Linked DNA regions of Homo sapiens. The protein of the gene in region 7 purifies or fractionates together with the protein of the main gene of each other region. This does not show direct contact. Each region holds a gene or a part of one and is shown on either strand. Other genes may lie near its edges.

Region 1 (4,294 bases), on a different chromosome or scaffold from region 7:
CTGCCCCTGAGGAGCTCACAGTACAGGGTTTCTATGCTGTCATTGTGGTGAGGGCTAATTTTTTGTTTTTATTTGCAGGTTTTGAAAAACCATCAGCAATCCAGCAACGAGCAATCAAGCAGATCATCAAAGGGAGAGATGTCATCGCACAGTAAGTTGTCCTGGGGTGCGGCGCAGGGCTGGATGTAAATTTGGGCAGCGCAGTGCAGTTAGATGCTCTGGGATGACTGTTTCCCTCAGCTTGTACACGCTCAGTTCCAACACTTTCCCTGACTTTAGCCACAGGGTTTAATACTTTTTTAAATTTGTGTTCTCTACTGTGGAAAGCTTTCATTTTCTTTTTGAGATGGAGTCTCGCTCTGTTGCCCAGGCTGGAGTGCAGTGGTGCCATCTCGGCTCACTGCAACCTTTGCCTCTCAGTTTCAAGCTATTCTCCTGCCTCACCCTCCCAAGTAGCTGGGATTACAGGCATGCACCACCATGCCCGACTAATTTTCATATTTTTAGTAGAGACGGGGGTTTCACCATGTTGGTCAGGCTGGTCTCAAACTCCTGACCTCAGGTGATCCACCCTCCTTGGCCTCCTAAAGTGCTGGGATTTCAGGCATGAGTTACTGCGCCCGGCCAAGGCTTTCATTTTCTTAGCCAGCTTTGCTTAGTGGTTTGCTGGCATGTGGAATTGTATATAACACAATTTCGGAAAAACAGACTGTGCTTTTCCTCTGCTCTCACACCACCACAACAGTCATCAGCACAGAAGAAGACTTCTGTGAGCAGAGGTGTGGGGCTTTTCCAGCTGGGTGTCCTCCAGTTCAACTCACACCACCTGCCTGGAGATAGGCCATATCCTGCAGGTTGACGGCTCAGTCCCCATGACTACCCTCTTTTCAGACACCAGTTATAAGTTCGGATCTCTAGAACTTCTGACCAAGCAGCTTCAAGTTGGGTTCCCAGGATCCCCTCTTTAGGTTGGATTAATTTGCTGGAACAGCAGCTCAAAGAACTCAGGGAAACACATTTAGTGGTTTATTATAAAGGGTACTGCAGAGGATACAGATATGGGGGGAGGGGTGCAGCCTCCAAGGGGCGGGTGGTCACCTCCCGGAACCTCCTTGTGTTCCACTGTCTGTGTTCAGCCATCTAGAAGCTCTTCGAACCCAGTCCTCTTGGGTTTTTATGGAAAATTCCATGAGGTCAGCATTCTTTCCCCCATAAGGGAATAGGGCAGGAGCTTTTCTGGGATAATACCATAATGCTTTTTAAAAAAAAATTTGAAATTTAAATTTTTTACATTTTTCGAGACAGGGTCTTACTCTGTCTCCCAGACTGGAGTGCAGTCGTGTGATTACAGCTCATAGCAGCCTCAAGCGATCCTCCCACCTCACCCTCCCAAGTAGCTGGGACTACAGGCACACATCACCATGCCCAATTAATTTTTGTATTTTCTGTAGAGACAGGGTTTTGTTGTGTTGCCCAGGCTGCTCTCAAACTCCTGGCAATCTGTCTGCCTTGGCTTCCCAAAGCCTTGGGATTACAGGCGTGAGCCACTGTGCCCGGCCTAAACATTTTTTTTGTTAAGATATGGGGCCTCACTTCGTCACCCAGGCGGGAATGCAGTGGTGCAGTCATAGCTCACTGCAACCTCTAACTTCGAGGATTAAGGAATCGTCCCGCCTCAACCTCCCAAGTAGCTGGGACTGCCAGAATGTGCCACCGTTCCTGGTTAGTTTTTTGTTTTGTTTAGAAATGGGGTCTCTTGCTGTATTGCCCAGGCTGGTCTCGAATTCCTGGCTTCAATTAATGCTGCCTCTGCGTCCCAGAGTGTTGGGAATACAGGCCTGAGCCACCACGCCGTGACATGAGGGTCTTTATGACTCACAATCTGAAAGGCAGGGAAGATTAGAGCCCTGCTGTGGAGCAGGTGAAAGGAGAGCAGAAGGTCAGAGAGATTGTTTCCTGAGGCCTAACCCATCAATTTAATAAGACTGTAATAAGGGCTATGGGAGCTGTGAGCCAGGAACTATGGATGAAAACTTGTATATAGCCATATCTCCTAGCACCACAAATCCTCTTTTAATAGCTTTATTCCTCGTTTGCCTAATTTCAAAAAAGACTCATTTACACAAAAATTTCTTTGGAAGAGAGAGTTAGTCCAAAATCCTAGAAGGAAAAGAGTTGTATTTAGATAAAGGGGAGTCCTCCTTTTTCTGACACCTATGAAACACCTCTTGAAGTTAGAGAGTCTGTGGCTCCATTGCCCCCGTGCAGAAGCCATGTCTACTCTCTTTCTTCATGGACACTTAACAAGCTGTGACACTGGGCCCGAGTCCTGCCTCCTCGCAGTTAAGATGTTATTAGGTACGGGGGCTTGCTGGAAGAAGGTACCTAAGTGCCTCTGGAGCCCAGGCCTTGGAGTGCAGCTGTGGCGTGGCCTGTCCTCCCTCTAATCCCACTGCTTTTGTTTCCTTGAATAGGTCTCAGTCCGGCACAGGAAAAACAGCCACCTTCAGTATCTCAGTCCTCCAGTGTTTGGATATTCAGGTAATTTGCCATTCTTAAAACAAACTGTTATGTAATTCTAGGAAATACTTGCTTTTTCTTCTGTAACTACAGTGTTCAAAAAGTACAATTTAAAATTTTCTAGTATGTATTGACTCAGCAAATTTTTACACAGAGTCTTAGTTGTACACTAATATATGCACTAATATTCTGTCATGATTTTCTATTTAACTAGAGGAAGCTCTTGTCTGCAGACGAGGATGCTGACACATTAAGTTATTGTTGGATTTGCAATTTAAATGACAATATTTGCTAACCTGTAAGAGATGAGAAGTATGATTAATATGAGATAGTATTTCTCATATAGATCTGAGTGTGAATTACTACAATCCACTTTGATAATACTGCGGATTCTCTATTTTCTGATAAATTATTTCACCAGGTTCGTGAAACTCAAGCTTTGATCTTGGCTCCCACAAGAGAGTTGGCTGTGCAGATCCAGAAGGTGAGATGGCTAAAGATAGCGGTGTCCGATTAACAAGTACTGCTTTTGTGATTTAGTTGTGAAACACCGACTTATTTATTTAATCCAATCCTGTTTTCTGATACCTCAAAATTTTCTTCCTGATTAACATTTTGCCATTAATCATTATATAAATTGCTGGTTTGTATTAAGTCATTTTTGGTGTGGCTTGTGTGCTCTCGGTAGTTTTTTACAGCCTTAGAAATGTAGATTTTTTGCGAAAAATCAATTTTAATAAAAATAAATTAGGTCGAGGTGGGTGGATCACCTGAGGTCAGGAGTTTGAGACCAGCCTGGTCAACATAGTGAAACCCTGTCTCTACTAAAAATACAAAAAATTAGCTGGGCGTGGTGGCAGGCGCCTGTAATCCCAGCTACTTGGGTGGCTGAGCAGGAGAATCACTTGAACCCGGGAGGCAGAGGTTGCAGTGAGCTGAGATTGTGCCGTTGTACTCTAGTCTGGGCAAGAAGAGTGAAACTCTGTCTCAAAAAAAAAATAAATTGTACCCATTTTATACTTAACGTAGTATAAAGATGTATGTTTAAAAAGATGTATATTAAGATGTTAATGCTGGTTTCTTCGGTGGATGGGATTATGAATTTTATATATTCTTTTCTGTTAATGATATAGCTTTTGTAATAAGAAACCAGCAGGCCGGGTGTGGTGGCTCACGCCTGTAATCCCAGCACTTTGAGAGGCTGAGGCAGGCCAATTACGAGGTCAGGAGATAACGACTCTCTGAATACACATATAGGGTGCACACAGCACGGTGTGCTAACACGGTGAAACCCCATCTCTACTAAAAATACAAAAACAAAATTAGCCTGGTGTGGTGGCGGGCGCCTGTAGTCCCAGCTACTCAGGAAGCTGAGGCGGGAGAATGGCGTGAACCCTGGAGGCGGAGCTTGCAGTGAGCTAAGATTGCGCTGCTGCCCCCCAGCATGGGCCACAGAGTGAGACTCCGTCTCAAAAAAAAAAAAAAAAAAGCAAAATTAACTTGTTTTTGTCAGAGAAAAGAGCAGGAGAATTTTGTGGTTTCGAGATAATAATGGCATAAATAATAATCGGTGATCATCTCGGAGGAGAAACAGTCTTTCTTTTTGGAAAACGTGGATGTTTCTCTCTCCCACCCTGGACGTGAACCTGTGCTTTGTTTCAGGGGCTGCTTGCTCTCGGTGACTACATGAATGTCCAGTGCCATGCCTGCATTGGAGGCACCAATGTTGGCGAGGACATCAGGAAGCTGGATTACGGACAGCATGTTGTCGCGG
Region 2 (4,294 bases), on a different chromosome or scaffold from region 7:
GCCAGCTGAGGCTTAGAAGCCTGGCCCTCAGCCTGCTTTGGTCCCCATGCCATGACCCTCACCTCAACCCCCAGCTCTCAGTCCCTTCTGTTGCAAGCCTCCCTGAATCCACATTCAGGCTCCTGGGACCTGAAACAGGCCAGTCATCTGACTGCCCCTGGGGACACCAGGGCCCCATTTCTCACAACCAAGCAATAGTGGGGAACTTGAACCAGGTCCTAGAGGGTATTTGAGGGGCGGGCCCCAGGCACCCTGAGCCAGCTCGGGTCTGGCAACCTACTCTCTGCTTCCTCTGGGCCTCTGGCCCTGGCTCCACCCATTTCTAAGTCCTCCAACCATGACTGCTACTCTGGGGCCTCCACCCCAACCCCTGCTCATTGTTCTTACACCCTGTGACTATCACCTTCATATGCGGGTCACACCTTCCCTGCCTCTGAGTCCCCAAAGGTCTGTCCATACTTCAGTCTCTGCTCCACACTCTACACCACCCCAGGTCCGTTTTGACTCCCAGACTTCAGACACTCCCCTGCCTTCCATATCAGTCTTACATATTAACAGGGCTCTCAGCGGCCAGGGCGACTGCAGAATCCAGGTGCACCTTGCAAGCTCGGCCATGTACCTGCAGGAACTGGGCTGGGTCCTTCTTCTGCAGGGGTAAACAGGACTGAGGTCACCACCCAACAGAGCTCCAAACCCCACCCCCTCACACACAACCGAGCTTAGCAGCAAGCTCACTTCTTTTTTTTTTTGAGATGGAGCCTCACTCTGTCGCCCAGGCTGGAGTGCAATGGTGCTGTCTCGGCTCACTGCAAGCTCTGCTTCCCAGGTTCACGCCATTCTCCTGCCTCAGCTTTCTGAGTAGCTGGGACTACAGGCGCCCGCCACCATGCCCGACTAATTTTTTGTGTTTTTAGTAGAGACAGGGTTTCACTGTGTTAGCCAGGATGGTCTCGATCTCCTTACCTCGTGATCCACCCGCCTCAGCCTCCCAAAGTGCTGGGATTACAGGCATGAGTCACCGCGCCCGGCCTGCAGCAAGCTCACTTCTAAGGTCAAGTGGGCCATACCTCAGAGGTGAACCAACCTGCTAACCTTCAGAAATAAGGGAATTGGCTAGGCATGGTGGCTCACGCCTGTAATCTCAACACTTTGGGAGGCCAAGGCAGGCAGGTCATCTGAAGTCAGGAGTTCCAGACCAACATGGCGAAACCCAGGCTCTACTAAAAATACAAAAAATTAGCTGGGCGTGGTGACACATGCCTGTAATCCCAGCTACTTGGGAGCCTGAGGCAGGAGAATCGCTTGAACCTGGGAGGCAGAAGTTGCAGTGAGCTGAGATTGTGTCACCGCACTCTAGCCTGGGCAACAGAGCAAGACTCCATCTCAAAAAGAGAAAAAAAAAGAAATTGAAGAAATAAGCTATTGGTTCCTCTCGAGGTGGTGGCTCAATCTTCTGCATAGCCAGTACGAAGACCTCGCTCTCTAAAATATCAGCCCCCTTAACTCTTCACCTCCCATCCTCCGGGCCGTTCATTTAGAGACTGGTGTGGACACTTCAGCCTGGACCAGACTGCATCCGCACATGGGAAGATGACCAACATCATTAGCCATCAGGGAAATGCCAATCAGAACCACAAGATACCACTTCACCCACACTAGGCTGGCTGACATGGAAAGGACAGACTGTAACAAGCAGTGGGTCGGGCATAGTGGCTCACGCCGGTAATCCCAGCACTTTGGGAGGCCGAGGCAGGCGGATCACCTGAGGTCAGGAGTTCGAGACCAGCCTGGCCAACATGGTGAAACCCTGTCTCTACTAAAAATACAAAAAAATTAGCCAGCCATGGTGGCAGGCGCCTGTAATCCCAGCTATTTGGGAGGCTGAGGCAAGAGAATCGCTTGAACCCAGGAGGTGGAGGTAGGTTGCAATAAGCAGAGATCCCACCAGTGCACTCCAGCCTGGGGGACAAGAGCGAGACTCCATCTCCAAAAACAAAAAACAAAACAAAACAAAACAAAACACAAGTAGTGACAAGAATATAGAGAAATCAGGATCTTCAACTGGAGTGCAATGGTGCGATATCAGCTCACTGCAACCTCCACCTCCCAGGTTCAAGCGATTCTCCTGCCTCAGCCTCCTGAGTAGCTGGGATTACAGGCATGCGCCACCATGCCCAGCTAATTTTGTATTTTTAGTAGAGATGGGGTTTCTCCATGTTGGTCTGGCTGGTCTTGAACTCTCGACCTCAGGTGATCCGCCTGCCTTGGCCTCCCAAAGTGCTGGGATTACAGGCATGAGCCACTATGCCTGGCCTACTACTTGTTATAGTCTGTCCTTTCCATGTCAGCCAGCCTAGTGTGGGTGAAGTGGTATCTTGTGGTTCTGACTGGCATTTCCCTGATGGCTAATGATGTTGGTCATCTTTCAATGTGTGGATGCAGTCTGGTCCAGGCTGGGCTCTGCCTCCAGGAGATTTGCTGACACATGTTGGGCCGCACCCCACCCCCCACCCCACTCCCAACCACTCAGCCCTCACAGGTGCTGGCCTGTCCCTCTCTGATTTCTTCCCTCCCCTACTCTGCTCCAGGCACACAGGCCCTCGCCTCACGCCATTCCTTGGGCATTCCAGACATGCCCCGTGCTTCTGCTCGGACCTCTGTGCTTCTGCTCCCCCGCTTATTTCAGATCTCCTCCTAAAAGCCGTCCTCAGTGACTCTATCTAAATAGCTCCCCACTTATCTACCCCAGCTCCTTCACTCTGTGGCTTTATTGAGAAGTAATTCATATACCACACAATTCACTCACTTAACTCCACTTGTTTTCTTTTGAGCACCCGCTACCACCTGCCACTGGACCTAATATTCATTCATCACCTTTCTCCCATGTTAGAACGTAACTCCCAGGAGGCAGGGCTCTGTTTTGGCTGCTATATCCCTAAAGCCTAGAACAGGGCCTGGCCCACAGCAGGCGCTTGAGAACACCCAATGAAGGAAAGACAGGAATAATCCTTACTAACAGATGAAGACTCTGAGCCCCTTCAGGAAAAAAACACCAGCTCCAAGTTTCCAAGCTCCTGCACATCCTCACTCTGTCTCCATCTCAGCCCTCAGCCAGCAGATGAGAAGGTGCAGTCCGGGCTGAAGGAGCTGAGTCACTCACCAGGACCACAGCTAATACCTGGCTAGTTTCAACCCCGCACTCACTATGTGCCAGGTGCTGGGCTGCTGTGACTCTCATTTCACACCTAAAGAAACTGAGTCTAAGGAACACTCAAGACCACAGGCCCAGCGAGGTGGCGCTGCTGGAGTCCAGCTACTCATGCTGCACCTCGCCTGCCTCCCTCGATTCCTTAGCTGATTCCTCAGCTGGGGCCACACAGCGCACCCAGCTCCCTCTGCCCTGGGACAAGCCAGCCAAGTCCAAGGCCAAGATCCCATCATACTCCTGAGGCTGCTCCAGGCCAAATGCCCAGTTCCCACAGCCAGGACTCATGGGACACTGTTTGCAGGACAGAATTTGGCAGGTACAGGGAAGCTACTGGCAGGGTCAGCTTCACAGAAAGGAATAAGCACTGAGCCGGGAGTAAACACCAGGAGTCCAGAGCCTGGTTCTGTTGGGAGATTCTGGAAAAGTCAATGAACCCTACTAAAAACCAGGCACTGTTTTATGTGCACTGTCTCACTCGAATGTCCCAACCATGGAAGAAACATACTATTCTTTTTCTTTTTTTGAAACAGAGTCTCGCTCTGTCACCCAGGCTGGAGTGCAATGGCGCGATCTCGGCTCACTGCAACCTCTGCCTCCCAAGTTCAAGGGATTCTCCTGCCTCAGCTTCCCGAGTAGCTGGGATTACAGGTGCCCGCCACCACGCTTGGCTAATTTTGGTATTTTTAGTAGAGACAGGGCTTCACCATGTTGGCCAGGCTGGTCGCTAACTCCTGACCTCGTGATCCGCCTGCCTCGGCCTCCCAAAGTGCTGGGATTACAGGCATGAGCCACCACGCCCAGCTGGTACTATTCTTATGCCCATGTTACAGATGAGTAAACTGAGGCTCAAAGCCATGGGGTCCACCTGCCTGACATTAGGAATAAGCAGAACTAGGATTCAAACCCAGATGGGCCTGGCTACAAAATCTGCTTCTTTTTATTTATTTGCTTTTTAAGAGTAATTTTTTGTTTGTCTGTTTTGAGACAAGAGTTTCACTCTTGTTGCCCAGGCTGGAGTGCAATGGCATGATCTCGGCTCACTGCAACCTCCGCCTCCCAGGTTCAAGCGATTCTCCTGCCTCAGCC
Region 3 (4,294 bases), on a different chromosome or scaffold from region 7:
TCAGCCTCTGGTTCCCCGGTAAGAGTAGCAGTCAATCTAGCATGTTCCTTCCGCTAGGGGTATTTCGTTATCGGCTCACTTCTACCAGATCCTGGGATTGTTAGTGCCTCAACTTTGCCTTGAGGAAAACTAAGACAGGAGTTAGTAAATTTTTTCTGTAGAGCAAAGCAGTACTTCAGGTTTTGCAGGCCACATAGTTTGTTGCAACTACTCAACTCTGGTGATGTTGTAGTGAACAAACAGCCACAGACAAAAGTGAATGAACTCGTGTGGTTGTGTTCCAATCAAACTTTATTTGTAACAGGTAGCCAGCTGGATTTGGTAGTCTGACCCCTGAAAGTGTCAGTCAACCCAACCCTCTGCACAGACAGGGAAGTTCCCTCCAAAGACTTTATCTCAGCTCCTCAGCTAGCTGCTCTGCATCTACTGCTCCCACCTTTCCCCTGACACTGGGGTGCAGAAGCCTTACCTGAGTGACTGTCCGGCATATTTTCAGCCCCTTGTCATGGGTCCCATCATCGCCATTACGCTCTGTCTCATCCTCAGAGATGCGAGAGTCATCAGCATGAAGATCCACAACAGCCTCCTGCCCCGCCAGGGGTTTGATGTCGGGGATGAGGCTCTGGGACACAGATACCCCCCACCCCGTTACACTGGGCCCATGTCTACTCCCACCTTAACAGGTCTCATCCTCCCTTCCCTGGCTCCTCCCACCTCACCTTTAGTGATTCAGTGGTGATACTGATGGAAGGTTTCTTCTGTGTGGTGGCTGTGCTGGCTCCCCAGCGTCGTTTCCGACCAGGCTGGCCCCCCTCTGTGTCACTGTTTCCAGCTGGCACCCCCTTGGTAGCTGCTGTCCCCAAGAAATAGACCCAACAGTTAGATGGTCTCAGGACCTCTGCTAGTTCAAACCGTAATACCTACAGGTTACCTCTGGCTGGAGTTTTGGTAAAAGGTTAACTTAAAGAAATCATATTTGGAGGCTGAGTGTGGTGGCTCACACCTGTAATCCCAGCACTTTGGGAGGCCAAGGCGGGTGGATCACGAGGTCAGGAGTTTGAGACTAGCCTGACCAACATGGTGAAACCCCATCTCTACTAAAAATACAAAAATTAGCCAGGCGTTGTGGTGCATGCCTGTAATCCCAGCTACTCAGGGTGCTGAAGCAGAATTGCTTGAACCCGGGAGGCGGAGGCTGCAGTGAGCCAAGATGGTGCCACTGACTGCACTCCAGCCTGGTGACAGAGCAAGACTCCGTCTCAAAAAAAAAAAAAGAAAAGAAATCATATTTGGGAACTGGGGAAACCATGGCTTCAGACTGAACACTGATCTAAAAGCAGTAAGGGAGGGGTAGCTAGTTTGATGAGCCGTTTAAACTTTTAATGGTAGACAGTAATATCAAGTAGTGTGGAAGAAAAACTGAGAAGGACATGTAAATGCAGAAGAAACAAGAACACTATGTGATACTAACATCTAGGCAGAACTAAGATCATGATGGGATCTGGTCTTCCTTTAATTTTCACACTACAGATTGATATTTAAGTTATAAACATCTATTATACTTTTGTAATCTAGAGTTCCTCATTGGGGAAAATGTTAAAATTGTTACTGTTTGAGGTGTGGGGCACTTTCATTTCCTTGGGTGCTCTCTTAGAATAACGCATAAACAAGGTCAGGCACGATGGCTCACGCCTGTAATCCCAACACTTTGGGAGGCCAAGGCAGGCGGATCACAAGGTCAGGAGTTCAAGACCAGCCTGTCCAACATGGGGAAACCCCATCTCTACTAAAAATACAAAAATTAGCTGGGCATGGTGGCGCATGCCTCTAATCCCAGCTACTCAGGAGGCGGAGGAGGATTGCTTGAACTGGGACCCGGAGGCGGAGGTTGCAGTGAGCCAAAATCGCACCACTGCACTCCAGCCTAGGGTACTACAGAGGGAGACTCCGTCTCAAAAAAACAACAACAAAATACCCAGAATAATTCATAAACTGCTAAGCATCACATAGGAGTCCCTGAAACTCATTCCTTGTTGAGTATTCAGGTATCTGAAAGAATAAATGCCTCTAAGGCTAAATGGGACATGGTCTCAGACACCTCACACTGTATCTCATTAAAATGTGACTGGAGCAATATGATGGGGATTGTCTCAAGTTTTGAATTCCAAAATGAAACCCTACATAGGAAAGGATTCAGATTTGCTAGGCACAAGGGGTGGGGCAGGAGGGAGTGACCCAAGAATGCCATTGAGAATGAAATTCTGGTTCTCAATGAATGCTGGTTTTTATGGTATTCCTGACTTTTATCAGGGATTTGGGGCTGGACTTACAGACAACGGAGATCTTCCTCTTGAATGATTTGGGCAGCGAGCTCTGTATGAAGAAGAAAAAGGGGAAAAAAAAGAGAAAGAGAGACACCCCACAGAGAGGGGGGAAGGAGGTTAGATGGGGCAGTCTTAGCTTAGCCTCCAAAGACACAGATAGAGTGAGAGAGAGAGACAGAGAGAGACACAGAGACAGACAGAGACCAAAACAGAAGCGGCAAACGGCAAAAACGAAGCAGAATCAATGCAAGTTAGAGAAAAAAATAAAACTAAACATCAGAGCAGGGAAAAGTCATCTACTCCGTATCACACCTGTGTATTAGCTTAACCAGAAATAAGCTGGAAGAGGAGTTCAGTAGCCTCTCAGCCCCCTAAAGATGTTGGTCATACCCCCTCTTTCACCGTCTGAGTCGAGAGGACACCAAGCCAAACAAACTGTGCCCCAAACTGGGTCATCTAGTCCTCCCAGGTCCTTCCTTGCTAACTCGAGGAAACAAGGAAAACCAACTTTGGATGGCAACTTCAACAAGGTAACCCTCCTTTCTTCAATGGCCAGACTGATGCCCACTGACAATGGCTTTGAGATGCTTGGACAGCAGACTGTCATGTCAAGACTGCCCAGACCCCCACCACACTGTGGAAAAGGGCAGCACCAGACCCACTGGAGATGAGGCTCTTGAGCCAAGTGCTAGCAAAAAGAACTCAAAGGTGTCTTTGATAAAGGAAGGTTTTTATGAAGGGCAGATTGTCCCCAAGGAGATCCTTAGACTTTCCAGCCACCGCAGGGAGCTCCAGCAGAGTCTTACTGTTTCCTCTCCAACCAGGGCTCAAGCCTTAGGGGCTCTGCCAAAGACCAGAAGACATCTTTGGGACAAGTCTCTACCCCAAACACTCAGTGGGTGAATGACGAAAGACTATGGGGGGCGGGGGAGAAAAGTGAGAGAGAAAAAGGGAATAGAGTATTTTCAAGTGTAGGTGCTTATTTCTGGAAAAACTAAGACCACTCTACCACTCTTCTAAAGGGTAGGGCAGAAACCTCGTGATGAAATCCCTTTCCCATCCACCCCCACCCGCAGCCCCGTTTGTGTCGTCTAACCAAGTCTCCTTGGTCTCTGTTAAGGGCCAGCCTGACCCCTAGCTGGGCCGCTCTCGATGGGTAAGTTAGTGAGAAAAACAAAACAAAAAAAAAGGTCTTAATTAAAACAGGAAAAACATGAACCAAATAAATAAATAAAAGAAATCAGAAAAAATAAAGATATAGAAAAAAATAAAATAAAATATTAAAAAAAGAAGAAGAAAATAAAGAAGAAAATAAACTAGGAATATGACAAATGTTCCAGGTACCATCTCACACCTGGGATCTTCAGTTCAGCCAATCGCACCTCACTGTGTACTGTATCTAGTCAACCGCCGGTCCAATCAGAATGAGCCCTCCCTGCTAGGCGCTGTGCAATTGGTGGGGGGTTGGGTTGGCAAAAAAGGTGGGCGCACGGCGTGGTAGTCAGCACGGCACTGCCAGAGTCCTCCCAGGGGCGCAGGGGGGGCGGGAGGGAAACGTGTGGGGGGACGCTGCCCAGTTTCCATGATGTCAAGACAGTTCACTGGCGGTGGCCAGGCTCAGCGAGGGATAGAGGGGGGAAAGGGGCAGAGACATCAGTCCTGGCCCTGAAGGGACATCATCTTGCAGTCCCTGATGAGATGGCCTGTGAGTAGCAGGAATGATCCTTGCCTTTTATCGTGAGAGGCAGGCAGGACCCTATGTCCACCAGTGGCAAGCTGCAGCAATAACACCACCCAATACTTGGAATCCAGGTGATGACTCCAGAGTCCCTTTCTCCTCTGCCTGTAACTGGGGAGGGGGTCCTCTCACCGAGTGGGATCATGGAGCCTCTGATGAAGGTAGCCTGGGGGTAGGTGAATACCCCAGGACCTGGCAGACATTCAGCAGCAAGGTCAGAATACTTCTCTTC
Region 4 (4,294 bases), on a different chromosome or scaffold from region 7:
TTTTGTGGGACGGAGTCTCGCTCTTGTTGCTCAGGCTGGAGTGCAATGGCGCAATCTCAGCTCACCACAACCTCCGCCTCCTGGGTTCAAGCAATTCTCCTGCCTCAGCCTCCTGAGTAGCTGGAATTACAGGCACGCACCACCACGCCCGGCTAATTTTGTATTTTCTTCTTCTTCTTTTTTTTTTTTTTTAAAGACAGAGCCTCGCTCTGTCACCCAGGCTGGAGTGCAATGGCGTGATCTCAGCTCACTGCAAGCTCCGCCTCCTGGGTTCACGCCATTCTCCTGCCTTAGTCTCCCGAGTAGCTGGGATTATAGGCACCTGCCACCATGCCCAGCTAATTTTGTATTTTCTTCTTCTTTTTTTTTTTATTTTTTATTTTTTAATTTTATTTTTTTAGACAGAGCCTCACTCTGTTGCCCAGGCTGGAGTGCAATGGCGCGATCTCAGTTCACTGCAAGCTCCGCCTCCTGGGTTCACGCCATTCTCCTGCCTCAGCCTCCCAAGTAGCTGGGATTACAGGTGCCCGCCACCATGCCCAGCTAATTTTTTGTATTTTTTTTTAGCAGAGACGGGGTTTCACCATGTTAGCCAGGATGGTCTTGATCTCCTGACCTTGTGATCCGCCCGCCTCAGCCTCCCAAAGTGCTGGGATTACAGGCATGAGCCACCGCACCTGGCCTAAAAAAATAAAAAAATTTTTAAGGCCGGAAAGGAACATACCAAACAGATAATAATGGTTATCAGTTACCTCTAGGAGGGGCACTGGGATGAGTGTAGAGGTAAGAGGACTTTAACTCTATCTGTGCTATTTGAATTATAACCAGTAAAATTCACTTATGCATTTTCTTTCTAAAACAAAAATCTTTTCAATAGATGACAAAAAAGGAAAAATAAATTTAAAAACCCAAAACTCTATCACTGGAATAAGCAAAAATATATTTAGAAAAATGTAAATGCAAAAAACCTAACATATAGAGCATAATCACAATATAGGAGCCACCCCAACACAACCCTTTAGAAACTGGAAGGAACAGCCAGGCGAGGTGGCTCACTCCTGTAATCCTAGCGCTTTGGGAGGCCGAGGTGGGCAGATCATGACATCAAGCGTTTGAGACCGGCCGGGAGCAGTGGGATGTTATCCCAGCACTTTGGGAGGCCGAGGCGGGCGGATCACGAGGTCAGGAGATAGAGACCATCCTGGCTAACACGGTGAAACCCCGTCTCTACTAAAAAAATACAAAAACTTTGCCGGGCGTGGTGGCGGTCACCTATAGTCCCAGCTACTCGGGAGGCTGAGGCAGGAGAATGGCGTAAACCCGGGAGGCAGAGCTTACAGCAGTGTGCCGAGATCGCATCACTGCACTCCAGCCTGGGCAACACAGCAAGACTCCATGTCAAAAAAAAAAAAAAAAAAAAAACTCGAGACCACCCTGGCCAACATAGGGAAACCCTGTCTCCACTAAAAATACAAATTAGTACTGGGCACAGTGGCTCACGCCTGTAATCCCAGCATTTTGGGAGACCAAGGCGGGCGGATCACAAGGTCAGGAGATTGAGACCATCCTGGTTAACATGGTGAAACCCCGTCTCTACTAAAAAAACACAAAAACTTTGCCGGGCATGGTGGCGGGCGCCTATAGTACCAGCTACTCAGGAGCCTGAGGCAGGAGAATGGCGTGAACCTGGGAGGCAGAGCTTGCAGCAGTAAGCCGAGATTGCGTCACTGTACTCCAGCCTGGGCAACAGAGCAAAACTCCATCTCAAAAAAAAAAGAGCTCGAGACCACCCTGGCACCAACACAGTGAAACCCTGTCTCTACTAAAAATACAAATTAGTACTGGTCACGGTGGCTCACGCCTGTAATCCCAGCACTTTGGGAAGCTGAGGCAGGTGGATCACGAGGTCAGGAGATCGAGACCATCCTGGCTAACACGGTGAAACCCCGTCTCTACTAAAAATACAAAAAAAAAATAAAATTAGCTGGGCATGGTGGCAGATGCCTGTAGTCCCAGCTACTCAGGAGGCTGAGGCAGGAGAATGGTGTGAACCCAGGAGGTGGAGCTTGCAGTGAGCCAAGATTGGGCCACTGTACTCCAGCCTTGGTGACAGAGCGAGACTCCATCTCAAAAACAAAAAAAAGATACAAATTAGCTGGGCATGGTGGCATGCGCCTGTAGTCCCAGCTACTTGGGAGGCTGAGGCAGGAGAATTACTTGAACCCGGGAGGCAGAGGTTGCAGTGAGCCGAGATTGCACAACTACACTCCAGCCTGCGCAACAGAGCAAGACTCCATCTCAAAAAAAAAAAAAGAAAGAAAGAAAGAAAGAAACTGGAGGGAACAATGCCCTAATGTATTAACAATCATCACATATGAGGTGTGAAAATGTGAGTGGTTTTTTTCTGATTTTCTGTATTTTATAACTTTTTTTTGTTTGAGATGGAGTCCTGCTCTGCTGCCCAGGCTGGAGCGCAGTGGGACGATCTCGGCTCACTGCAACCTCTGCCTCCCAGGTTCAAGTGATTCTCCTGCCTCAGCCTCCTGAGTAGCTGGGATTACAGGTGCCTGCCATATGCCCAGCTAATTTTTTTTGTATTTTTAGTAGAGACAGGGTTTCACCATGTTGGCCAGGCTGGTCTCGAACTCCTGACCTTGTGATTCTCCCGCCTCAGGCTCCCAAAGTGCTGGGATTACAGGCATGAGCCACTGCGCCTGGCTATAACTCCTCTGTAGTAAAAAATATATTCCTTCATAATTAATGGCACAATATTTAAACTCTGAATTATTTTTAAGGGATGGTAGTGGCCTATGCAAAACTAGCTGTGGAATAATGAATTTTAAAATAAGCAGCATTTAATAAAAATAGAACTATATTTTTTTTAAAATAGAAAAGCCAACTAGAAGGAGATATAACAAAATGCTAATAATGGTGAAAATACTGGCATCATTCTTCTCTGCCTCTCATACTTTTTCCTATGAAGTGTTGACTACCTTTCTAAAACACAAAATCAAAACCGACTAAAACTCCAGACTAACAGTTTCAAATTATATTCAGGAGGTTTGGCTGAAAGAAGGAGGAAAGGTGGGTGTGCCCTATTTGGATTCACACAAAAGTAGCTCCACTTTTCTCCTTTTTTTTTTTTGAGATGGAGTTTCGCTCTTGCTGTCCAGGCTGGAGTGCAATGGCACGATCTCGGCTCACCGCAACCTCCACCCCTCAGATTCAAGCAATTCTCCTGTCTCAGTCTCCTGAGTAGCTGGGAGTACAGGCATGCACCACCATGCCCAGCTAATTTTGTATGTTTAGTGGAGACGGGGTTTCTCCATGTTGGTCAAGCTGGTCTCTAACTCCCTACCTCAGGTGATCCGCCCACCTCAGCCTCCCAAAGTGCTGGGATTACAGGCATGAGCCACAGTGCTGGGCCTCACTTTTCTCCATTTTTACATTTAGGGTTTGGCCCAAGATTGTATTTGTTCTTTGGTTATCATTTGTTCAACTAATAAGTAACTGAAACATGACCTGATTCAATGAACTTCAGAGCCTGCCCCAATCGTTCTGGGAAACTTCAAATAGGGAAACTCCTTGTCCAGACTGACAGATTAGCACCTGCCAAAGGCAGAATCCTGCACCAGCCAATCCTGGGCACACTTTCCAGCCCCAATTGTATGGCATGGGCCTATGATTCTATCCCAGTTCTTAAGAATTCTCAGTTAAAATCTGGGAACAATAATTCCTACACTATAAGGCTGTTATGCAACTAAGAAAAAAAAGTAAGAGCAGTTAGCATATAGCATATCTACTCTTATGATTATTACCAATGAAAGGCTAAAACTGTCACAAACTTACTTACGTTCTTTTTCAAACAGCTCTCTAACACCAGGCAAATCTTTTGCTGCTCCAAAGTACTTGTAACCTCGGTTTCCTGGGACTTCTTTTCCTTCATGATCCAGCATTTTAGGGCCAACTTTCTTATTGGGAAGAAAAAAAGAGAAAATGGATCTGTTAGTTAGTTAGTTAGTTATTATTTATTTATTTATTTGAGGCGGAGTCTCGCTCTGTTGCCCATTTATTTATTTGAGGTGGAGTCTCGCTCTGTTGCCCAGGCTGGAGTGCAGTAGCACAATCTCACTGCAACCTCCACCTCCTGGGTTCAAGTGATTCTCCTGCCTCAGCCTCCTGAGTAGCTGGGATTACAGGTGCGTGCCACCACGCCTGGCTAATTTTTGTATTTTTAGTAGAGACGGGGTTTCACCATGTTGGTCAGGATGGTCTTGAACTCCTGACCTCATGA
Region 5 (4,294 bases), on a different chromosome or scaffold from region 7:
GATCTACACCCAATCCTACCCCCAACAACGTGGCAAAAGTCAGTAATGGCATCACTAATCACTCAGCAACTTAAGCAAAAAATTTTAGGATCATCTTTGATTCTTCCTTTTCCTACATCTGCCACATCCAAACATCAAGTCTCTCCACCTCTATCTTTCTCAAATGGACAATTCCGCTCCCAACTTTCCACACAAGCCAAATCTATGACATCTTGAAGCTGACTACTACAATGCTCACCTAATTAATTCCCTGCCTCTTGCTCCCTCCAAATCCAAATTCTTGCTGGGTGCAGTGGCTAATGCCTGTAATCCCAGCACTTTGGAAGGCCAAGGCAGGTGGATCACTTGGGGCCAGCAGTTTGAGACTAGCCTGGCCAACATGGTGAAACCCTGTCTCAAAAAAAGAAAAAAAACAAACAAACCCAAATTCTCTTTTTCAAATACCACTGTGCTTACAACTCTTCTTACTTCCTACTGTTTTCCAAATAAAGAACAAAATCCTGAAGATGGCCTTTGACCCATTTAGTCAAATATCCTTTTAAAATACTCACTGGACATACATGTCTGCAGGTGTATATACAAAAAGATGCCTAAGACACGCTGTTAAATTTTTTAAAAGAAGCATGATGAAAAATAGCATGTAGAGTACAAACCCTTTTGTGTTTGAAAAAACATGTGAAGGCGTGGGGAATAGAACAGATGTATATGAACCATATACATGAACCAGGGATTGGGGGCAGAAAAGATGATTTATTGAAACTCACCCCTTACAGCATATTGCTCAAAAATAATTTTTATCACTTCTGTGTTTATTATTATACATTTTATACATTACATATGTATACTATATTATTGTAAATTTAATAATGTCTTACTTTCATAACTTTTTAAGAATATTTTTAAAAGGTGAATCAGAAATAATACTAGTAATAAAATCTTCATGTTTACTTTTTCTCAAATTCCATCTAAATCCAAATAAACCCTATGGGATTTGATACCTCTAATCTGAGCCAAAAGTTAGAAGGCAAAAAATAATTTATGACTCTTCAGCACCTAAAGTTTTTCTAGTCACCATTGCCCTGACGACCAGTTTGAAACAGAAAAAGGGTTCAAGTTATGATCACATTTAGAAGTTCAGCCAAGATCCAACTTGGTCCACCCCAATCACATTGTATAAAATTTAAATTCATTCCTACCTTGATTTGACAATCTCTTTTTCATATATATCTTCAATAACCTGTTATAAAAATATAAAAATGTTTAATATCTCAACAACTTTTTTCAACCCTAAATTGACAGTTTTTAATGAGTGAGATTATATAAAATAAGTTGGTTTAGGAAAGCCATCAAATATTACTGCTATTGAAATAATGAGATATTTAAAATAATCCCATTATATTCCTCGAAATATGAAATTAACAGAAAGCAAAGTAGAAAAAACAAATAATAAAACAGAGCCCTAGATTCATTAAAATGATGTGCTTATAAAGATTTTTAGGGAAAATAAAAATTCACAAGATCAGGATTTTTTTTAAACTTAAAGTGTATAAATGTTATGAGACTCCATTTGAGAGTCATAACTGTGTGCCTGCAAAACCCAGAGAGAAAATAATTTAAAAGTGTGAAGACATAACAGACACAAATTCTAATTGTTACATCTCTTTATCCAAATGAATATGATAGAGCTTCAGAATTTCCATTCATTTGAGTGAGGGTGGGCAGAATGGTGTACTACTTAAGAATTCAGACTCTGGCCAGGCACGGTGGCTCACGACTGTAATCCGAGCACTTTGGGAGGCCGAAGAGGGTGGATCATGAGGTCAAGAGATCAAGACCATCCTGGCCAACATGGTGAAACCCTGTCTCTACTAAAAATACAAATATTAGCTGGGCGTGGTGGCGCACACCTGCAGTCCCAACTACTTCGGAGGCTGAGGCAGGAGAATCACTTGAACCCGGGAGGCGGAGGTTGCAGTGAGTCAAGATCGCGCCACTGCACTCCATCCAGCCTGGTGATAGAGCGAGACTCCATCTCAAAAAAAAAAAAAAAAAAAAAAGAATTCTGACTCTGGAACTGTACATCTCAAAAAAAAAAAAAAAAGAAAAAAAGAACTCAGACTCTCGAATTGGAAGACTGGTTCAAAACATCTGCCTTCACTACTGATGGCTGGAACTCTTAGGCAAGTGCCTGACCTCTCCAAGCCTCAGTTTCCTTACCCACAAAACAGATCTAATAACACAAACTACCACACAGGGTTACTGAAAATAAAATAAGACAGGGCATATAAACAATTAGTACAAATACTGGCATACAGTGAGCCTTCACTAACAGTTATCAATAGCAGCAGTAGTAGTGCTAGCATTAATAATAGTAAAAAAAAATACTACTGTAAAATTATGAAGTGCTTTAACATGCTATAATATTATTGTATGGTAACTATAATGTCTTTTTTTTTTTTTTTTGAGATGGGGTCTCACTCTGTCACCTAGGGTGGAGTGTAGCAGTGCAATCACAGCTCATTGCAACGTCTGCCTTCCAGTCTCAACTATCCTCCAGCCGCAGCCTCCCAAATAGCTGGGACCACAGGCATACACCACCATACCCACCTAATTTTTTGTATTTTTGGTAGAGATGGGGTTTCACCATGTTGCCCAGGTTGGTCTTGAACTCCTGAAGTCAAGTGACCTACCGCCTCAGCCTCCCAAAGTGCTGGGATTACAGTCATGAGCCATGGTACCTAGCCTATAATATCTTTTAATTGCTCCAAGTACATTTGTGAAATAAGTATTTGTGAGTGGTAAAGGGAGGGAGGCGATAAGGAAAACAAGTCTTGTTCAATCTAGATGAAATGCTCTGTTATTGTTTTCATCAAATTTCAAATTAAATAATAAAATAAAGATTACTGGTTGGCCGGGTGTGGTGGCTCAAGCCTGTAATCCCACCACTTTGGGAGGCCAAGGTGGGCAGATCACCTGAAGTTAGGAGTTTGAGACCAGCCTGGCCAACATGGTAAAACCCCGTCTCTACTAAAAATACAAAAATTAGCAGGGCGTGGTGGCGTGCATCTGTAATCCCAGCTACTCAGGAGGCTGAGGCAGAAGAATCGCTTGAACCCAGGAGGTGGAGGCTGCAGTGAGCCAGAATCGTGCCATTACACTCCAAACTGGGTGACAAGAGCGAGACTCCACCTCCAAAAAAAAAAAATAAATAAAAGATTACTGGCAAAAACAAATATATATTCGTAAGAATTTAAGTTCAAATAAAGTAAGAAATTTTGGGTAAAAAGTTCAGTTTTACCAACAGTGCCTAAAGCATCACCATTAAATTTATAATGGCAAAGCTTAAGAGTCTTCATTACTTGTTGAATGGTATGCAGTGTCAACATCTATTTCATTTAAAGACCTCACTCTCTTTAAGGGACAGGGTCTCATTCTGTTGCCCAGGCTGGAGTGCAGTGGCCTGATTACAGCTCACTGCAGCCTCAAGCTCCTGGGCTCAGTCAGTCATCCTCCCGCTTCAGCTTCCAGAGCAATTGATACTACATGTGTGAGCCACTGCACAAGCCAATTTTTTTAATTTTTTTGTAAAGGCGAGATCTCACTACTGTCCAGTCTAGTCTCAAACTCCTGGCTTCAGGTGATCTTCCCTCTTTGATCTCCCAAAGCACTAGGATTATACGCATGAGCCACCACACCTGGCCTTAGACCTCTCTTTAAGAACCTAATCCAATGAGAATTAACCCTATATTTGGGAATTTGTCATATTATTTGTTCTAAATTGCTTCAGTTGGACTTATTCAATTGAATAAGTTCAATTCCCTTATTGAATATTACTGGACTTAAGTTATTACACTATACAACTGCTGCTCCTTCCATCTTTATTATAGACCTTTACCTCATTCACCACTCTAAAAACAAGATAACCCAACAGATTTAATCCTAAATGAACTATCAAAAACTTGTACAAAAATTTCTGTATATTTACAAAGATATTTATTACATGATCATTTATAATAATGATAAATTAAAAATAACCTAAGAATCTATAAACAGAAAAACAGTTAAGTAAATTATACACGTACACTTTTTTTTTTTCTTTTTTTTGAGATGGAGTCTCGCTCTGTCATCCAGGCTGGAGTGCAGTGGTGCGATCTCGACTCACTGCACGCTCCGCCTCCCAGGTTCACGCCATTCTCCTGCCTCAGCCTCCCGAGTAGCTGGGACTACAGGCGCCCACCACCATGCCCGGCTAATTTTTTGTATTTTTAGTAGAGATGGGGTTTCACCGTGTTGG
Region 6 (4,294 bases), on a different chromosome or scaffold from region 7:
ATGTGATCAGTTATGGGAATTTTTAAGACACCACAACCCATCTAGTCAACTAAGATTTCATTATAGATAGACTGTATATTTCTTTCTTGTGTGCTTAACTGAAAATAAACTACTAATTTAAAGTTTGTGAATTAGTTAACTAGTACTCTCAAATTATTTTACAGAATGTTAGAAGTCATGATAAGATTTGATTTAGAGAAAATTACTATCTTTATAAGGAAATTACTGACAACACAAAAAAATGTCTCAAAGATAGGCTAGAAAGCTGCTCTGATTCTCACAAATAGGCCCACTCTTCATCTTAAGTGGGAAAATAAAAAGATGTTTATTTGGCCCCATACAGACTCATCAACCTAAGTAGGGAGTGGAAAAAAATTCTAACTTGCATATCCTACTTAGTTTAACAACAAAACTACCTTTCTAAGGCTATCAAACTTATATGCATATGAATTATGCTTCCAACACTTGCCAGAAGACAATTCTGCTTTATAAATAAAAGTACTATTGGGGGGGGTGGGGAAGCATTTAATAAACTCAGCCCCACTAGTTAAAAACCCAGAAAACTCAAACTAAAACTAGAGTCTTTTTTTCACTGGTCCTGTTTTGAAGCCATCAAAAAAAGCTTTCACATCAATCTTATCAAATAATTAACAGAATCAATGAATAAAGGACATGTCTGCTACATATCATAACATCTGGTTATTCTTTGCTAACATCACAATAACCAGAGGTAAAACAATTTATCAGTTACTAGCTTTAACATTTGGTAGAAATAAAAACAAATGACTAAATGAGATTACAGCTTATCAGCTAACTTAATATACACGATCTATCCTAGAAAAATTGAGTAAGAATACACAAAAAGTTCAGAAATATCTATTAACAATATTAATTACATAGCATAATTAAGATCTCAATATGGAAAGAACATAGCCTAGGTACTACCTAAAAGGAGTTCTATTTGTAGGCGTTTGCCTTAAGCAGTTTGTGATTTGATCAGTAAAAGAAATATATTCTATCTATATAATCCAAAGGGGCATAATCAGGCATTTTTAATAAAAACAAACAATTATTCCAAAACAGTCTGCAGTAAGAATATGCAATGGTCCGTCAATCATCATACTCTGGTCTCCCCATATTTAAGTTACCTACAGAATTCTAAGTAGTTCCCTCACACCTTTGCCTCCTTGTGCACTTACTACTCGTTTATCTCTGTATCTTGCTTCATGTGGTACTGGATGATGTCCTGAGTAAGGGGGATGAGCTTGAGGAGGTGGAGCATGGTGCTGATAGTAAGGATGGTGTGGAGGTTGTTCCATTCCTGGGTAAGGGGGCTAAAAAAGGAAAACCATTTACATTAAGAATCTACCAACACCCTTGTAAACAAGCGATTCTTAGAACCCTTCATCCAAAACACCAATCCCAAACAAGTGAATCTGTACTAGACATTTACTTTGATGGCATTAAGGTGTTTCAAAATATGCTTTTTGTCGAAAATTACACATCTTCTAAGATTTAACATGTTTATGCTTTTCTACTCCTATCATATAAATAACAATGGAAATAGCAAACACTTACATGGTGCTTACTGTGAGCCAGGCATTGTTCTAAGCACTTTACTAGTCTCATTTAATTCTCACAGCAACCTTATGAGATAGATACTATTGTTCCCAGTTTACAAAAGGGAAAACTGAAGCAACAAGGAGTTAAGTAACCTGCTTATAGTCACACTACTGTTAAAGTGGTGAAGCAGGCATACGGCATCAGGCATCCTAGTTCTGCAGTTGGTAAACTGGTTAACCACTTTGTATGTATCTGTTCTTAGAAACATCAACAGGCCTGGTGTGGTGGCTCACGCCCATATCCCAGTGCTTTGGGAGGCTGAGGGAAAAGAATCCCTTAAGCCAGGAGTTGGAGACCAGCTTGGGTAACAGAGTGAGACCTTGTCTCTATAAAAAAATTAGCCAGGCACAGTGGCATGTGCCTGTAGTCCCACCTACTCAGGAAGCTGAGGCAGCAGGACCACTTGTGCCCAGGAGTTCAAGGCTGCACAGAGCTATCATCACACCACTGCATTCCAGCCTGGGAGACCGAATGAGACCCTGTCTCTCAAAAAAAAAGTCCAGGAGCAAATTAACTTTTAAATGCCATTTAAAAAATGAATAAAGGGTAAATTAAAGATTACTTTCATAGTTACTATCAAGATCATATATTATTAAATTTTTAAAATTTCCTAGAATCTAAAGGGGAAAAGTCTCATAATCATCTGCATATAATAGTATAAAACTGTATACCTTAAAAGTGAAACAAAAGTCAGATGAAGAGGCCATATAACATATTGCATTTAAAAAAAGACATAAATTAAAATGTAAGAAAACAGTAGAAGCTACTTCAACTTCCAGGTTTTTATTTCTTGAAAATTAATGCTTCAGCTATCTTCAATATCTTAAAATATACTCTAAGACAATTCAGTTTTCTTAAAGGAAATAATTAAAAAGCAGGAATAATCAGGGTTTAATTAATCTTATTTTACACAGAAAATTTAGTGAGTATTAGATCAGGCACTATGCTAAACTTAACATGTACTTTGTAAATTTATCTTGACAATGAAAATGACACTACTACATTAAATTTTAAGCTATACCAGGACAGTCATGATGTCAATTTCATTCACCATGATATAATCAGAACAAGCACAGTGCCTTGCACAGAGTAAGTACTAAATATTATATTTGATAAGACAAAGCATCAGTGAATGCCCATGGAATTTTACAGATGAGGAAAACTAAGAGTTGTATTAAGAAATTAACCCAAAGTCACAGAGTTGGGAAGAAAAAGAAATATATCTGAACCCAAGCGGACTTTGCACTACTAATTACTACCATAATACACTATTACAGTTCTCAAGCCTGTACTATTAACACAAATGAGCTTTTAGTCTTTAGTTTGAAAGACAGCATACAATTATTTATCATCAAAAATCTGTATTTTAAGTCTTTTTGAGATGGAGTCTCCCTCTGTTGCCCAGGCTGGAGTGCAGTGGCGCAATCTCGGCTCACTGTAACCTCTGCCTCCTGGGTTGAAGCAATTCTCCTGCCTCAGCCTCCCCGAGTAGCTGGGAGTACAGGCACACGCCACCACACCCAGCTAATGTTTTTTGTATTTTTAGTAGAGACAAGGTTTCAGTTTCACCGTGTTGGCCAGGCTGGTCTCGAACTCTTCACCTCAGGTGATCTAGCCGCCTCAGCCTCCCAAAGTGCTGGGACTGCAGGTGTGAGCCACGGCGCCTGGCCAGTTTAAGTCTCTTTAATGAGTAACTGTAACAATCATATTCCGAGTAAGCACCTGAAATACTAGAACTGCAAATTAAGTTATGTAACTTATAAAAATAGAATAATACAAACCATTCCTTGCCAAGGTGGTGGTGGTCCCATGTTATGAAATTCCCTCACATAATCATTGTAGGACTAAAATAAAAGATGATAATGTCAATATAATTAAAAATTATCACAGAACTGCAAAATAAATCAGAGCCTGATTTTATCCACATTAAATAGATAAAATGAAATGCTTACCCCATTTAAAAACACATCTCGGCGAACTCCTGAAAATCGTCTGTTGGGAATAAGATTTGTGAAACTAAATTCAGGTAATTCATAAACTAGTTCCAAGAATGTAATTCAAAACTAGGCAAGAGTGAACCCGACTTACCTGTCCACTTCCTGGTATCGTGGATCCTTTAAATACCCTGTTCAAACATCAAGCATTTTAGTAAATCAAATTTATATTTTTCTTTTATGGCATTATAATTAAACCTTCCTTACCACTCGTTTCAATTCTTTCCATGAAATATGTACTTTAAGTGATGCTACTACTGTATTATCCCATTTTCAAATTTTCTTCTCAGATTACATGATAATCTAGGAAATAACTAATGATATCATAGAATTGTAAACTGCTAGAGAAGCTTTCAGATAGGTATCTTCTATGTTCACACTCCAAATCTTGCTAATCAGAAAATTTCTTCCTTCTGCTTCACAGGGAAGGTAAGGGCAGAGGAACTATCTTGAGCACACTATGACAGGACTTCCTTAAAACAAATGTTTACTTTCCACCTTGGGTATATGTAGGTCTTACCAAGAAAACCACAGATAAGCTTTTTAAAATGTAAACTTAAGGGGGAGGGGGAAAAAATTGCAAAAGTTGCAAAAATGAAGATGTATACACTGAAAATGAAAAATCGATGGTGGTTAGAAAAATATTCTTTCCCCTGCTTCTTTTAATAAGAACCCAA
Region 7 (4,294 bases):
TATTAGGTATTATAAATAACCTAGTGATGATTTAAAGTATACAGAAGGATATTCACAGATTTTTATATAAGGAACTTGAGCATCCTAAGATATCTTTTTTTTTTTTTTTTTTTTTTTGATATGGAGTCTCGCTGCGTTGCCCAGGCTGGAGTGCAGTGGTGCGATCTCGGCTTACTGCAAGCTCCGCCTCCCGGGGTTCACGCCATTCTCCTGCCTCAGCCTCCTGAGTAGCTGGGACTACAGGCGCCCGCCACCATGCCTGGCTAATTTTTTTGTATTTTTTTTTTAGTAGAGACAGGGTTTCACTATGTTAGCCAGGATGGTCTCCATCTCCTGACCTCGTAATCCACCTGCCTTGGCCTCCCAAAGTGCTGGGATTACAGGCATGAGTCACTGCACCTGGCCCTGAGATAATCTTTTTTATCCACTGGGGATCCTGGAACCAATCTCCTGAGGATACCAAATGATTACTTTATTCTTTTCTCAACCTCTGAACCACCATTTTGTGTTTTTTTTTGGTTGTTGTTGTTGTTTGTTTGGTGAAGTGTTGCTCTGTTGCCCAGGCTAGAGTGCAGTAGTGTGATCTTGGCTCACTGCAATCTTTGCCTCCTGGGTTCAAGCGATTCTCGTGCCTCAACCTCCCCAGTAGCTAGGATTACAGGCACGTGCCACCATGCCCGGCTAATTTTTGTATTTTTAGTAGAGACGGGGTTTCACCATGTTGGCCAGGCTGGTCTCAAACTCCTGACCTCAAGTGATCCACCTGCCTCAGCCTCCCAAAGTGCTGGGATTACAGATATGAACCACCGTACCCAACTGAACCACCATTTTCGAAACAAATGTATTGATTACATGCTCATTGTAATAATACAGAGGTATGTAAAATATAAAATGAGAGTATGGTTTACTTCTCTCGTCCCCAAAATTGCACCACCTCCTCAACCAAAAAACCTCCACCTCACTTGCCAGAGGTAATCACTATGATATAGACTCTCTGTCCATCATCACATGGCCTTCTCCCATGAATCTCTCTATCTCTTCTCTTCCAAGGTCACCAGTCACGTGGGATTAATGACCTATATTACTTCAGTATGACCTTAATTTATTACATCTGCAGTGACCCTCTTTCTAAATAACGGAGAGATAAACATTTGAGACTCACCTGCATATAGGTGTATGTAAAGTATTAGGATTAGATGAAAATTACTAAGGAAATGACTGTAGATAGAAGAACAACCAACAAAGGACTGAATCCAGGGGCGATCCAGTGTGAAGAAATTGCAGTGACATCAGCAAAGAAGACTGGAAAGAAAGAGAAGCAAGAGAATCTGGTAACTTGAAGCCATTAGAAGGAAGTGTGTTGAGGATAGAGTGATTAACTCTGTTAGATGCTGCTGATAGTTAAGTGAAATGAAGACTGAGAATTGGCCACTGGATTTAGCAACATGGAGGTCACTGGTGATCTTGACCAGCAATTTTAGTGGAGTAATAAGGGTGAGACCTGATTGGAGGGGTTCAAGGGAAGACAGAGGAGAGGAATTGGGAACTGAATTTTTAAAAACAATACTTTTTCTTTCTTTCTTTCTCTTTTTTTTTGAAACAGAGTCTCACTCCGTCACCCAGGCTGGAGTGCAGTGGTGCAATCTTGGCTCACTGCAACCTCCACTTCTGGCGTTCAAGTGATTCTTCTGCCCCAGCCTCCCAAGTAGCTGGGACTGTAGGCACGTGCCACCACATCCAGCTAATTTTTGTATTTTTAGTAGAGATGGGATTTCACCATGTTGGCCAGGCTGGTCTTGAATCCCTGACCTCAAGTGATCCACCCACCTCAGCCTCCCAAAGTGCTAGAATTACAGACATAAGCCACCACACCCGGCCGTTATGGCTTATTATAATGACTCTTAATAAGGGATAAAGGACATGATGAGATTAGTCCTGGTGAACTCAAGGCAGATAGCAGTGGCAAGCTTGTAAATGTTTTGGAGTAGGAAGGGTGGTTGTCTGAGGCTCTCTCTTGATGCATGTCTGTGCTAGGCTAGGAAGTCTAGAAAAACTGAGTCCCACTCTAAGCAAGCAGCCCCTCACTTGAGCCCTGTGTATGGCAGGGAGCGGGGGGGGGGGGGGTCTTAGTCCCAGTGCTTCCACTTTTAGGGTATTGCGAATAATGCTGCAATGAACATGGATGCTCAAGTATCTATTTGAGACCCTGCTTTCATTTGTTTGGGATATCCAGAAATGGGATTGCTGGATCATATGGCGATTCTATTTTTAAATTTTTTATGGAACCACTGTACTGTTTTCCGCACTAACTATACCATTTTACATTCCCACCAGCAGTGTACAAGGGTTCTGATTTTTCCACATCTTTGCCAATACTTGTTATTTTCAGTTTTTTGATAGTAGCCATCCTAATGGGTGTGGAGTCACCTAAATTTTTAGTTTTTAATTTTATTTTTATTATTATTTTTAGAGAGGGCGGCGGGTGGGTCTCACTATGTTACCCAGGCTGGTCTCGAACTCCTGGACGCAAGTGATCCACCCGCCTCGGCCTTCCAAAGTGCTGGGATTACAGGTGGGAGCCACTGCGTCCTGCCTGCCTAATCATTTTTATTATTATTATGTATTTTTTAAATTAGGGGCCATGCTAATTTTTGTGTCATTCTAATTTTCTCCCTAATCATTTTGAAAGTCTCTTACTGCTCTCTGCTTTAAAATTTTTAACCTTAATTATCTGTAAACATTTTTGTACCTTACCTAGTCCATAACAAGAAGTTTTTTCTTTGTTTTTTTTTTTTTTTTGGTGGGGGCGGGGGGTACCAAATTTCTTTATTTGAAGGAATGGTACAAATCAGCTTAAGTGGATGTTTTGGTACAACTTATAGAAAAGGTAAAGGAGACCCCAACATGCATGCACTGCCTTGGTGACCAGGGAAGTCACCCCATGGCTATGGGGAAATTAGCCTAAGGCTTAGCTTTCATTATCACTGTCTCCCCGGGGTGTGCTTGTCAGAGAAATATTCTGCCAAGCCAGATTCGGGTGCCCTCATCTTGCGCAAGTTGGTCACATGGTCACCCAATTCTTGATGGATTTCCCCTGCTCATTCAGGTAATGTGTTTCAGTGAAGTCACACAAATGGGGGTAATTTTGTCGGTGGCCAGTTTGTGCAGTTCCAGTAGTGACTGATTCCCAAGTTTTTCCAAATGTAATGCATGCTCCATCGCATTCAGCCTGCTCTCCCAGTCATCATGGTCTGGTTTCTTGAAGTCCCGAAGGAAGAAGATTCAGCCACCTCATTGGTTCTGCAGCTTCATCAGTTTCTTGGCATGTTCCCTCTCCTCATGAGATTGGTGAAGAAAGTATTTGGCAAAGTTCTTCAAAGCCACATCATTGTGGTCAAAGTAGTAAGACATGGACAGGTAGATGTAGGAGGCATAGAGCTCCACGTTGATCTGGCGGTTGATGGCGGTAGTTCTGGCGCACCTGCGAGGGGGACGCGCAGTCGTCATGGTGGTGGCCACGGTGGCTGTGCGGCGGTGGCTGCACGGCGCTGGAGTGGCGGCGGGGGCCTTGGGACAGTCAGAGGGCCCAGTGAAGAGGTAACAGAGGGCTAGCTATGGGCGGCCAGCCGGAGTGGGGTACGAGTGCCTGGTTCCGTCCAAGCACTGTTGAACCAGGAAACTCCAGGGACTTTCCGCAAAGAACGTCTCATTTTTTTCTTTTTGAAACAAGAATACACAACAACATTTTTGTACATGAATGAAGTCCTTGGGGATCTACATCTATAAGACTTGTTTCTTTCTTTCTTTTTTTTTTTTTTTTTTTGAGACAGAGTCTCATTCTGTCCACCCAGGCTGGAGTGCAGTGGCGTGATCTCGGCTCACTGCAACCTCCGCCCTCCGAGTTCAAGTGATTCTCCTGCCTCAGCCTCCCAAGTAGCTGGGATTACAGGCGCCTGCCACCGCGCCCTTCTAATTTTTTGTATTTTTAGTACAGACAGGGTTTCACCATCTTGGCCAGGCTGGTCTTGAACTCCTGACCTTGTGATCCACCCACCTCAGCCTCCCAAAGTGCTAGGATTGCAGGCGTGAGCCACTTCGCCCGGCCTCTTGTTTCTTTTTTTTTTTTGAGACGGAGTCTCTCTTTGTCGTTCAGGCTACAATGCAGTGGCTCCATCTCTGTTCACTGCAACCTCCACTTCTGGGTTCAAGTGATTCTCCTGCCTCAGCCTCCCGAGTAGCTGGATTACAGGCATGCGCTACCACACCTGGCTAATTTTTGCATTTTTAGTAGAGA

The links.
Region 1: the proteins of SNIP1 (region 7) and EIF4A3 purify together in Homo sapiens (affinity purification with mass spectrometry; 4 studies listed by BioGRID and IntAct, with this or other methods). This does not show direct contact.
Region 2: the proteins of SNIP1 (region 7) and CLASRP purify together in Homo sapiens (affinity purification with mass spectrometry; 4 studies listed by BioGRID and IntAct, with this or other methods). This does not show direct contact.
Region 3: the proteins of SNIP1 (region 7) and ACIN1 purify together in Homo sapiens (affinity purification with mass spectrometry; 5 studies listed by BioGRID and IntAct, with this or other methods). This does not show direct contact.
Region 4: the proteins of SNIP1 (region 7) and ISY1 purify together in Homo sapiens (affinity purification with mass spectrometry, with the first as the bait; 4 studies listed by BioGRID). This does not show direct contact.
Region 5: the proteins of SNIP1 (region 7) and AQR purify together in Homo sapiens (affinity purification with mass spectrometry; 4 studies listed by BioGRID and IntAct, with this or other methods). This does not show direct contact.
Region 6: the proteins of SNIP1 (region 7) and YTHDC1 purify together in Homo sapiens (affinity purification with mass spectrometry; 4 studies listed by BioGRID and IntAct, with this or other methods). This does not show direct contact.

The regions. Positions count from the first base shown.
Region 1 is NC_000017.11:80,140,029-80,144,322, reverse strand, and holds part of EIF4A3 (eukaryotic initiation factor 4A-III), read left to right. Parts: intron 1-78; coding exon 79-151; intron 152-2,474; coding exon 2,475-2,541; intron 2,542-2,941; coding exon 2,942-3,004; intron 3,005-4,182; coding exon 4,183-4,294. UniProt on the Homo sapiens protein: ATP-dependent RNA helicase. Involved in pre-mRNA splicing as component of the spliceosome. Core component of the splicing-dependent multiprotein exon junction complex (EJC) deposited at splice junctions on mRNAs.
Region 2 is NC_000019.10:45,048,423-45,052,716, reverse strand, and holds part of CLASRP (CLK4-associating serine/arginine rich protein), read right to left. Parts: intron 647-4,294; coding exon 549-646; intron 1-548. UniProt on the Homo sapiens protein: Probably functions as an alternative splicing regulator. May regulate the mRNA splicing of genes such as CLK1. May act by regulating members of the CLK kinase family.
Region 3 is NC_000014.9:23,063,636-23,067,929, forward strand, and holds part of ACIN1 (apoptotic chromatin condensation inducer in the nucleus), read right to left. Parts: exon of another isoform or gene 3,725-4,294; intron 2,374-3,724; coding exon 2,331-2,373; intron 854-2,330; coding exon 720-853; intron 623-719; coding exon 470-622; intron 1-469.
Region 4 is NC_000003.12:129,136,515-129,140,808, forward strand, and holds part of ISY1 (pre-mRNA-splicing factor ISY1 homolog), read right to left. Parts: intron 3,972-4,294; coding exon 3,854-3,971; intron 683-3,853; coding exon of another isoform or gene 617-682; intron 1-616. Other genes in the region: ISY1-RAB43 protein, read right to left, coding at 3,854-3,971. UniProt on the Homo sapiens protein: Component of the spliceosome C complex required for the selective processing of microRNAs during embryonic stem cell differentiation. Required for the biogenesis of all miRNAs from the pri-miR-17-92 primary transcript except miR-92a.
Region 5 is NC_000015.10:34,959,578-34,963,871, forward strand, and holds part of AQR (RNA helicase aquarius), read right to left. Parts: intron 1,238-4,294; coding exon 1,197-1,237; intron 1-1,196.
Region 6 is NC_000004.12:68,315,115-68,319,408, forward strand, and holds part of YTHDC1 (YTH domain-containing protein 1), read right to left. Parts: intron 3,749-4,294; coding exon 3,712-3,748; intron 3,640-3,711; coding exon of another isoform or gene 3,616-3,639; coding exon 3,576-3,615; intron 3,468-3,575; coding exon 3,405-3,467; intron 1,335-3,404; coding exon 1,200-1,334; intron 1-1,199. UniProt on the Homo sapiens protein: Regulator of alternative splicing that specifically recognizes and binds N6-methyladenosine (m6A)-containing RNAs.
Region 7 is NC_000001.11:37,543,976-37,548,269, reverse strand, and holds part of SNIP1 (smad nuclear-interacting protein 1), read left to right. Parts: intron 1-2,811; exon of another isoform or gene 2,812-3,707; intron 3,708-4,294. UniProt on the Homo sapiens protein: Required for pre-mRNA splicing as component of the spliceosome. As a component of the minor spliceosome, involved in the splicing of U12-type introns in pre-mRNAs. Down-regulates NF-kappa-B signaling by competing with RELA for CREBBP/EP300 binding.